2 separate regions of the Homo sapiens genome follow, and region 1 is reported to be linked to region 2. Evidence: microRNA targets listed by miRTarBase, many of them from high-throughput screens and not tested one by one. Region 2 holds a microRNA gene; the other region holds the end of a gene's coding sequence.

What was found. The annotated mature microRNA hsa-miR-548q reads GCUGGUGCAAAAGUAAUGGCGG and lies in region 2 at 2,428-2,449, opposite strand. An mRNA with a match to its seed (bases 2 to 7 or 8) in the 3' UTR can be bound and repressed. Matches are read on the target gene's strand: a 7mer-m8 pairs with bases 2 to 8, a 7mer-A1 pairs with bases 2 to 7 and ends in A, and an 8mer does both.
Region 1: the mRNA of STX4 is a reported target of hsa-miR-548q. Seed matches in the 3' UTR shown: 7mer-m8 at 3,304-3,310.

Annotation. Positions count from the first base shown.
Region 1 is chr16:31,038,844-31,043,230 of GRCh38, reverse strand. It overlaps STX4 (syntaxin 4), which reads right to left. Exons shown (of 11, transcript NM_004604.5): 9 at 3,580-3,690; 10 at 3,413-3,508; 11 at 3,067-3,319. The coding sequence ends at 3,428. Among named protein-coding and RNA genes, the nearest start is that of STX4, 7.5 kb to the right of the region's middle.
Region 2 is chr10:12,722,898-12,727,284 of GRCh38, forward strand. MIR548Q (microRNA 548q) reads right to left here and starts at 2,456; the gene lies at 2,357-2,456. All of the region lies in intron 3 of CAMK1D (calcium/calmodulin dependent protein kinase ID), which reads left to right.

The DNA.
Region 1 (4,387 bases), not on the chromosome of region 2:
CTTCTATGGGTCCTGACAGCCCACAGGAAAAGTTCAAAGGATTGAGCCTGGCATCCGAGGCCACTTGGCCATCAGGCCACCTTTTCCAGGAGGTTCTGGATGGCTTTCTGGGTGAAACCGGGGAGCTGCTTTTCAGGGGCGGCGCTGTCCAGCATGGCTAAGAAGAGGCACACACTGCACGTGGCCCCCCGCTGCACATGGCCCCCGCTGCAGGTGGACACCCGCTGCATAGACAGTGGATGCCGAGAGACTCTATCAGATCCCAGTAAGCACCACAGATCTTGCAATTTTACTCTGAAGGCAGAGAAGTGAGAGAGTGGATGAAGGCAGCCAACGGGACAGGACTTTGCTGGAGATGCAAGCAGAGAATCAGGGAAGTCCAGAGGCCCCAGGTCCAAATCAGCTTTGTACTGGGGCAGCATCTGCCCGGCCCGCAGCTCCCATCGGGTGGACACACCTAGATCGCATCTGCACACTCCAGAGAAGGTGGAGCTCTTTCCTGTAAAGCCCACGACACACTGGATCTGCCGGGCCCTCCTCAGCCACACAGCCTTCCAGTGTCTTTGGGGGGTTCGATCCAGCCCCTTGCGGTATACAATCCAACCACTTCGGGGTATGTCTGCGCCTCGCCCTAAGGCCCCACCCACACCCGCTTCCTAGACCTAAGCGCCATTTGATGGTGGGGCGGGGATCACTCTTCCAGGACCCTCCAGACTAATGTCCATGCTCTTCAGAGACAACACTTAAGTCCCGCTGGCCAATCGTAACCAAACCACGGCCTTAGCCACGCCCCATGCACAGCTCGCCCAGTTGCGGACGATCTCGGACGGTAAGACCTGCACTCCAGGGCCACCGGGAGGCGCTGCGGGGCCACCGGGAGGCGCAGTCGGGGGTCGGCGAGGCCTGGCCCTCGGGCCCAATTCCGCCCTCCTGCCCTTCCCCTAGCCCAGTCCAGAGCCCGGTCCAATGTGCATCAGCGAAGCCACATCCAGCGCTTACGCGACGCGGTCTCCCACACATGGCAACGCGGGACTGAGCCCGCCAGACTGGGCAGCTGGGAGCGGCGGCAGCGGCAGCAACAGCAGGGGCCTGTAAGATTGAAAGTGGGATGGACTGGGCGGCTGCGACGCAGTCCCCAGACCTTGGAGGTCAGAGCTAGGCGCCGCCCTACTGCAAGTAGGCAGGTGCCAGGAGCCGGCTTACCCTTTAAAACTAGGTGTCGGGGGCCGGGCGCGGTGGCTCATGCCTGTAATCCCAGCACTTTGGGAAGCTGAGGCGGGCGGATCACGAGGTCAGGAGATCGAGACCATCCTGGCTAACACGATGAAACCCCGTCTCTACTAAAAATACAAAAAATTAGCCGGGCGCGGTGGCGGGTGCCTGTAGTCCCAGCTACTCAGGAGCCTGAGGCAGGAGAATGGCGTGAACCCGGGAGGCGAAGTTTGCAGTGAGCGGAGATCGCACCACTGCACTCCAGTCTGGGCGATAGAGCAAGACTCCGTCTCAAAAAAAAAAAAAAAATTAGCCGGGCATGGTGGCGGGCGCCTGTAGTCCCAGCTACTCTGGAGGCTGAGGCAGGAGAATGGCGTGAACCCGGGAGGCGGAGCTTGCAGTGAGCCGAGATTGCGCCACTGCACCCCAGGCTGGGCGACAGAGCGAGACTCTGTCTCAAAACAAACAAACAAACAAACAAAAACTCTAGGTGTCGGGGAACAGGAGCCACGTCCACTCCAGAAATTAGGCATCAGGACTAGGAGCCCTTAGAAATTTAGGCGGTGGCTCACGCCTGTAATCCCAACACTTTGGGAGGCCGAGGAGGGCAGATCACGATGTCAGTAGATCGAGACCATCCTAACACGGTGAAACCCCGTCTCTACTAAAAATACAAAAAATTAGCCGGGTGTGGTGGCGGGTGCCTGCAGTCCCAGCTACTCGGGAGGCTGAGGCAGGAGAATGGCGTGAACCTGGGAGACGGAGCTTGCAGTGAGCTGAGATAGTGCCACTGCACTCCAGCCTGGGCAAAAGAACAAGACTCTGTCTCAAAAAAAAAGAAAAAAAGAAATTTAGTCAGGGCTTGGATTTCAGGTACCTTATGGAAGAAATCAGAGGTCAGGCTTTTCTGCTGCCACCACCTGCTTCAGCCAGGTAACCCTCAGCAACCAGGTGCACTGATCCAGGATCACTGGCTCTCTATGCTGCTGCTGCTGCTGCTGCTGCTACTGATGATGATTGCTATTATTTTTGAGACAGGGTCTCGCTCTGTCACCCAGGATGGAGTGCAGTGGGATGACCATGGCTCACTGCAGCCTTAATCTCCTGGGCTCAAGCGATCCTCCCACCTCAGCCTCTGGAGTAGCTGGGACGACAGACACTTGCCATCACGCCTGGCTAATTTGTAAAATTATTATTCTCTAAAGAGAAGAGGTTGCCCCATCCTGCCTAGGCTGGTCTCAAGCTCCTGGGCTCAAGAGATCCTCCTGCCTGGGCCTCCCAAAGTGCTGGGATTACTGGTGCGAGCCACCACACCCTGCCTAAACGCTTATGTAAAAGATGATGCTTTTGTTGGTCACAGGGCCCGGCCTCCTGTGCTTTCTGACTGGCAACCTCTTCCCCAGCTTAACATCCCACTCCAATGTCATCCCTGCTGAAACCAGACCATCCCTATCCACTGCATCCAAAGTGACAGCCTCAATTAGGCATTTTTTCATGGTGCCTCTTCCTCTGGGCCACAAGAAGGCCCACTGATGCCACCCAAACCCCCATCTCACCTGCGTCCCAGCCTGGCCTGGTCAGCCTCATCATTTCCAAGACAGATACTCACAGTGGTCCTTTCCCGGGGACAGTACTGAGCCAGGAGCTAGATGCCGGTGTTACCCCTCCCTGCCCACCCATTCCTATGGGGGTGCAGAAAGGCAGAACCAGCCTGCTGTGGGCACAGCACCCCTGGCAGTTTGACCTGAGCAGCCAGGGCCAGACCTGGCCCTGGGGACGTCCAGGAGGTAAGGAGGTTGGATGCCCGGAAGCCTTGGGCCAGCCCTTCCAGGAACACACGTGCACAGGGCTTTCTATGCTCTTTTTTTGTTTTTTAATTTTTTACAAAACCGTGTGTCCCGGCCAATCAGGACAGTGCAGGCCTCCCCCAGGCATTGAGGCCTGAAGGAGGAGGCCATCATGAATGAGCAGCTGCCAACCCCAGAAGAACTGTCTGCCCTTCTGCATAGGGGCCAGTGTGAGGAAGGGGTCCGACTGGAGGCTCTGCCCTGCCCCCCAGGCTGCTGGGAGAGAAGGCCAGGCCCTGGGTTCCTGGTGCTCCTAGTGCCTGTAAGGAAAGGAGGGAGAACAGGGTCTGAGGGAGGAGGGAGGGCTGGGGCCAGGGCTGGGGCAGGCCAGGGGGCAGCCCACAACATCTCACCAACAATGTGCGACATTATCCAACCACTGTGACGCCAATGATGACTGCTAGGAGGACGACGGTGATGGACACACAGATGGCAATCAAGACTTTCTTCTGTGGGAGAGGAGGGGGTCAGGGAAGTCACACAGGGTGCCTGGGGCAGTGGCCGGGCCTGGGAGGCTCACCTTCCTCGCCTTCTTCTGGTTCTCCAGGGCCGTCTTGACGTGCTCCTGCCCACGTTCCACGTAGTCCGCTGAGCTCAGGATGTTCTTCTCAATCCGATTGATCATCTCCCCCTGCTCAGAGGATGGGGTGGTTCAGGGAGGTAAGGATGCCTTTGCCCACCCCACCCCAGATGACTGAAGAACATTCCTGGCAGGAAAAAAAAATTGCACTAACAAAGACAAGGGCAAGACTTGATCTGACAAAAGTTCAGACTCCTTGGGGATGGCTTCCAGGCCCCTTCTATCATGTAGTCCCTTGTCCCCTGCTCACTTATCCCATACAACCTCTATCTGCAGTGGTAGCTTGGAGCTAAGGGCCTCAAATGGCTCATACCTTTCACAGATGGTGAACTGTGCCTTCACAAATCTGTCTGAATTTACCCATTCTTCCAGGCCTATCTACAGCTGCTGCAAAGCCCTCCCTATCCCTGCCTCCTCCTGGCACCACCAGCCTCAGGTCTCAGTACTCCTACTGAATGAGATCTCTTTCCTGTAAGTCTCAGCTGCAAAAGGGCATTGGCTGTAGCATGACTGAGGCCAGCTCCTCCAGGACAGGGCTGGAAGCTCAACTCAACTCACAACCAGGGCCAGGGGAACGCCGCCCCCACCCCAGCCTTGTACAGATGTTAGGAGGCAGCCCCTCTAGGGCAACTCTGACTGGACCTCTGAGAGGTATAAGGGTGGATGCTGTTAGTGGAGGGGGAGTGAGGGCTGGGGCCAGACCTGGGCAGGCTCAAGTTTTGGAGAGGGGGCAGGGTGCTATGCAGAA
Region 2 (4,387 bases):
CAGAATATTGAAAGTGTTCATTAGTATATCTCTAACGGAGGTATAATCGGTGCTCTCGGGGCAGGTGGAAAATGGTGTGGGCTGGAATTTGAGTGTAGATGGGAAAAGGCAGAAAGGAAGGTGTTCCGGAGTCCACATGGGAGGAAGAACTATGTGAACACCACATGGGGAAAAGAAGAAATGGACGTGAAGAGGCTAAAGTCCCAGGGTGTCAGGCAGTGGGCTTGTGTATTGCAGGCCCACACGTCTTAAAGCAATCTCATTGAGTCACACTTAATTAATTGAGAATTTATCATTATTTGGAAGGAGGCAGGCTGCAGTTTGGGAGAATTGAGATTTATTAGGTGTTTGAACGGTCTGAACGGGAGAATTGTAGAATTTTTGCTTTAAAAGGAAAAGATGTCTGACCTCTTCCATGTAACAGATGAGGCATCTGCAGCTCACAAGGTTAGAAAGCTTCCCTGACCTCACACAGATGGTAAATGACAGAACCCAAACTAATTAAATCCTGCATTTCCCTGAATCGTTTTTGGGGCATCTCATCTCAGAAAAGGAGGGGAAGGTTATCTACTTAAGGAAGGTTATCTACTGAAAATACCGCAGTAGTATTGATTACATTAAGGCATACAGGAATTGCAATATGGTACAGATGAACATGCATCTTTTGCTAATGTGTAAGCTCATCACTAATCAGCCTACTTATGAATGAAAGCAAGACCTCCAAGAGGCAGAATAGTTACTATGTAAATTGAAAGGCATTTTTTTCTATTAAAATACATCATAAATAATTATGTTTATATCCTTGCAGTAGTTTAAAACTCTATTAGCAGGTTTTGTTGTTGTTGTTGTTTTGACATTCTTTTTTTATATTTTTTATTATACTTTAAGTTCTAGGGTACATGTGCACAATGTGCAGGTTTGTTACATATGTATACATGTGCCATGTTGGTGTGCTGCACCCATTAACTCGTCATTTACATTAGGTTTATCTCCTAATGCTATCCCTCCCCACTCCCCCTACCCCACAACAGGCCCCGGTGTGTGATGTTCCCCTTCCTGTGTCCAGATGTTCTCATTGTTCAATTCCCACCTATGAGTGAGAACATGCGGTGGTGTTTTGACATTCTGTCGCACAGGCTGGAGTGCAGTGGCGTGATCCCAGCTCACTGCAACCTCTACCTCCCAGGTTCAAGCAATTCTCGTGCCTCGGCCTCCCGAGGAGTTGGGATTACAGACGCCGGCCACCATGCCGGGCCAAATTTTTATATTTGTAATAGAGATGAGGTTTCACCATGTTGGCCAGGTTGATCTCAAACTTTGACCTCAAGTGATCCACCCACCACAGCCTCCCAAAGTGCTGGGCCTCCATTAGCAGGTTTTTAAATGTGTTTCTATCTTTTTGTCTTGGGCTGCCTTCTGTTTTAACAAAGTGAGGAAAATGGCATTCGTGTGCATGGAGAAGGGACTCTGGGGGCCAGGGTTTGTGTTCTGGGGCTTTCCGAGTCCTTGAGTGGGTTCTGGAGTCACTTAGGATAGGAGTCACTTCACTTACAGGAGTTTTGCTTGTGCAGAGGTCTCATCTGCTTTGGATTTACTACACCCATCACTCTGCATCTTCTGGTATAAAAAATGGAATGTGATTGCTGGACAAAAGCAAAACCTTGTAAATCCACTTTAAAGAAAGCAAGTGAATACATCCCAGTTGTCCTAGACACTGAGAAGTCCTCACATTTAAATGGCTGTTTGGGAAAATATTAATACTTTGAGGAGCTTGACACCGGGCAACCGCTGTCTGAGCTTCATAGGAAGGAGATGCTTCTGTGTGAATGAAATAAAGCCCAGCTCAGGGCAGCCTGAGTTCTGTGGGCCTTCACTTGGGTCTAGCCAGGTGACAGAATGTGATCCGTCTGAGTTGGAGGCTGCAGTGAGCTACGGTCACACTGCTGCACTCCAGCCTGGGTGACAGAGCCAGACCCCATCTCTTAAAAAACCAAAAAAAAAAAAGTGATCTCTCCGTGTCTCAGCGTCTGCCACCTGAGATGTTTGATGTAACTGTGAAAAGAAAAAAGGCACGTTTCTTTCAACCACATCTCTTTCAACAATCTAAACTTCACAAATGATAACCAGGCACATCCGTCTAGTGTTTTGCAGCAGAAGCAAGGGTCCCACTGTGTTTCTCCTTAGCCGTGTGGACTGGGGGCAGCTGGAGAACCCTCAGATCCGCAGTCCTCTGTGGACTCAGCTTGCAGATCCCTGCCTGGTACCTGCCCACATTGCCACAGGAGCCAGTAAGAAAATAACAGCAGGGGCTCTTTGTCAGCCATGGAAATCGGCACCCTTGGAATGCATGAATCTTAGGTTGGTGAAAAAGTAATCATGCTTTTTGCCATTACTTTTAATGGTAAAAATGAAAAGTAATGGCAAAAACCGCCATTACTTTTGCACCAGCCTAATATATTCTTACGTGTGAAAGTATTTGTAGCTTCTTTCCATTAAACTCAAAAGTAGGGGGTTTTCTTCCTCAACACTAAAGGACATCAAAGTAGTAATTTTCAAGAGAGAGTAAAGTGCATTGTCAGCTCAAATATATGAATCCAAACATGATTTCTAAAAAGATGATTTAGCCAGAAGAGTTAGTAATCTGACAAAGTTTAACAGCTTTCTTAAAAAGTCATAAGTACCCACTGGCAATGTCAATTACTACTTTATTTTCTCAACAGTCTTCTCTCATTTCGGCATCTTGCAGGAAAGAGCAACATCATGAGGCGTGTCTACACCTGCTTCTGTGGGAGAAGGAATGCACGGGATTCCAAAACTGGTCATGTTCGTCTAGCCAGCTACACACTACTGAATAATATGGTTTTCTTTGCTGTTTTTGAGCTGGAGTCTCACTCTGTTGCCCAGGCTGGAGTGCAGTGGCATGATCTCGGCTCACAGCAACCTCCACCTCCCAGGCTCAAGCAATTCTCTTGCCTCAGCCTCCCAAGTAGCTGGCATTACAGGCGCCCACCATCACACCCAGCTAATTTTTGTATTTTTAGTATAGACGGGGCTTCCTCATGTTGGCCAGGCTGGTTTCAAACTCCTGATCTCAGGTGATCTGCCCACCTCGGCCTCCCAAAGTATTGGCATTACAGGCATGAGCCACGTCACCCGGCCTGGTTTTCTAGTATATAGACTATTTCTCTTTTTACTTAACCTATAAAATAGAATTGATGACTTGGTAATGTTACAAAGGGAATACTGGGCCGGGTGCAGTGGCTCATGCCTGTAATCCCATTACTTTGGGAGGCCTAGGCGGGTGGATCACAAGGTCAGGAGATCAAGACTGTCTTAACCAACATGGTGAAACCCTGTTTCTACTAAAATATAAAAAATTAGCTGGGCATAGTGGCACGCACCTGTAGTCCCAGCTACTTGGGAGGCTGAGGCAAGAGAATCACTTGAACCTGGGAGGCAGAGGTTGCAGTGAGCCCAGATTGCACCACTGGACTCCAGTCCAGACAGAGCAAGACTCTGTCTCAAAAAATAAAATAAATAAGTAAAAAAATTAAAAAAAGAAGGGAATACTGTAGTTAAGCGGAAAGCTGACTTACACATTGTCAACTTTAATTAGACCTAGTGCCGCAGGAGAATTAAAAGAGACATGTCTCAGAAAATAATTCTACAGAAGCCACGACCAGGACATGCCATCGTTGTTATTAGTAATTATTTTTATACCTGCTGTATATAGTGCAAGGCTGTGCTCAACGCTTTATAGAATTCATTAAATTCTCACACTAGTTCCATGATGATTGAAGAAACTGAGACTTGGAGACATGGTGACTTGCCTCAGTGACGGAGCTTGGATTTGCTCAAACGTCTTCCAGGTTCTTGAGCCCACAACCTTACCTACTATGACTGTGGTTTTCAAACATGGGACAGAGTTTTGAGTTCTCACTTTTGCTTCAACGGGATAGCTCATTTAAAAAATGCTTTGCACGTGTTCGTGCATCCAGGTGAGAATTCATTTGAACCCAGCCCCCTCAGGCCCCTGTGCTCCCAGCTGCCCAGGGCCATGGTGAGGAGCGGCTGTATTCAGTCAGGCCTACGGCACGCCATGCCCGTGGCCCCACACCCAGGCTCCCCTTCCGCGTTATCCTCAGCCTGCGCAGCCCAGGGCCTGTGTAGCATGCATGGCACATGTGCTGACGGAGGCTTGTGGCTCATGGGGCCCAAATAGCCAGGAGCTGGGGCTTTACGGTTTTGTAAAAACTCATCATCTGAGCAAGGGAAGCAAAACTGAGCCTCGTTTTGATGATGCTAGGCTACAACTTACAGGCTTCTGAAGACTTTTTAAAACAATCCCTTTCAAGTCCAGAAGTGTTAAGAAGGTTATGACTCAGAG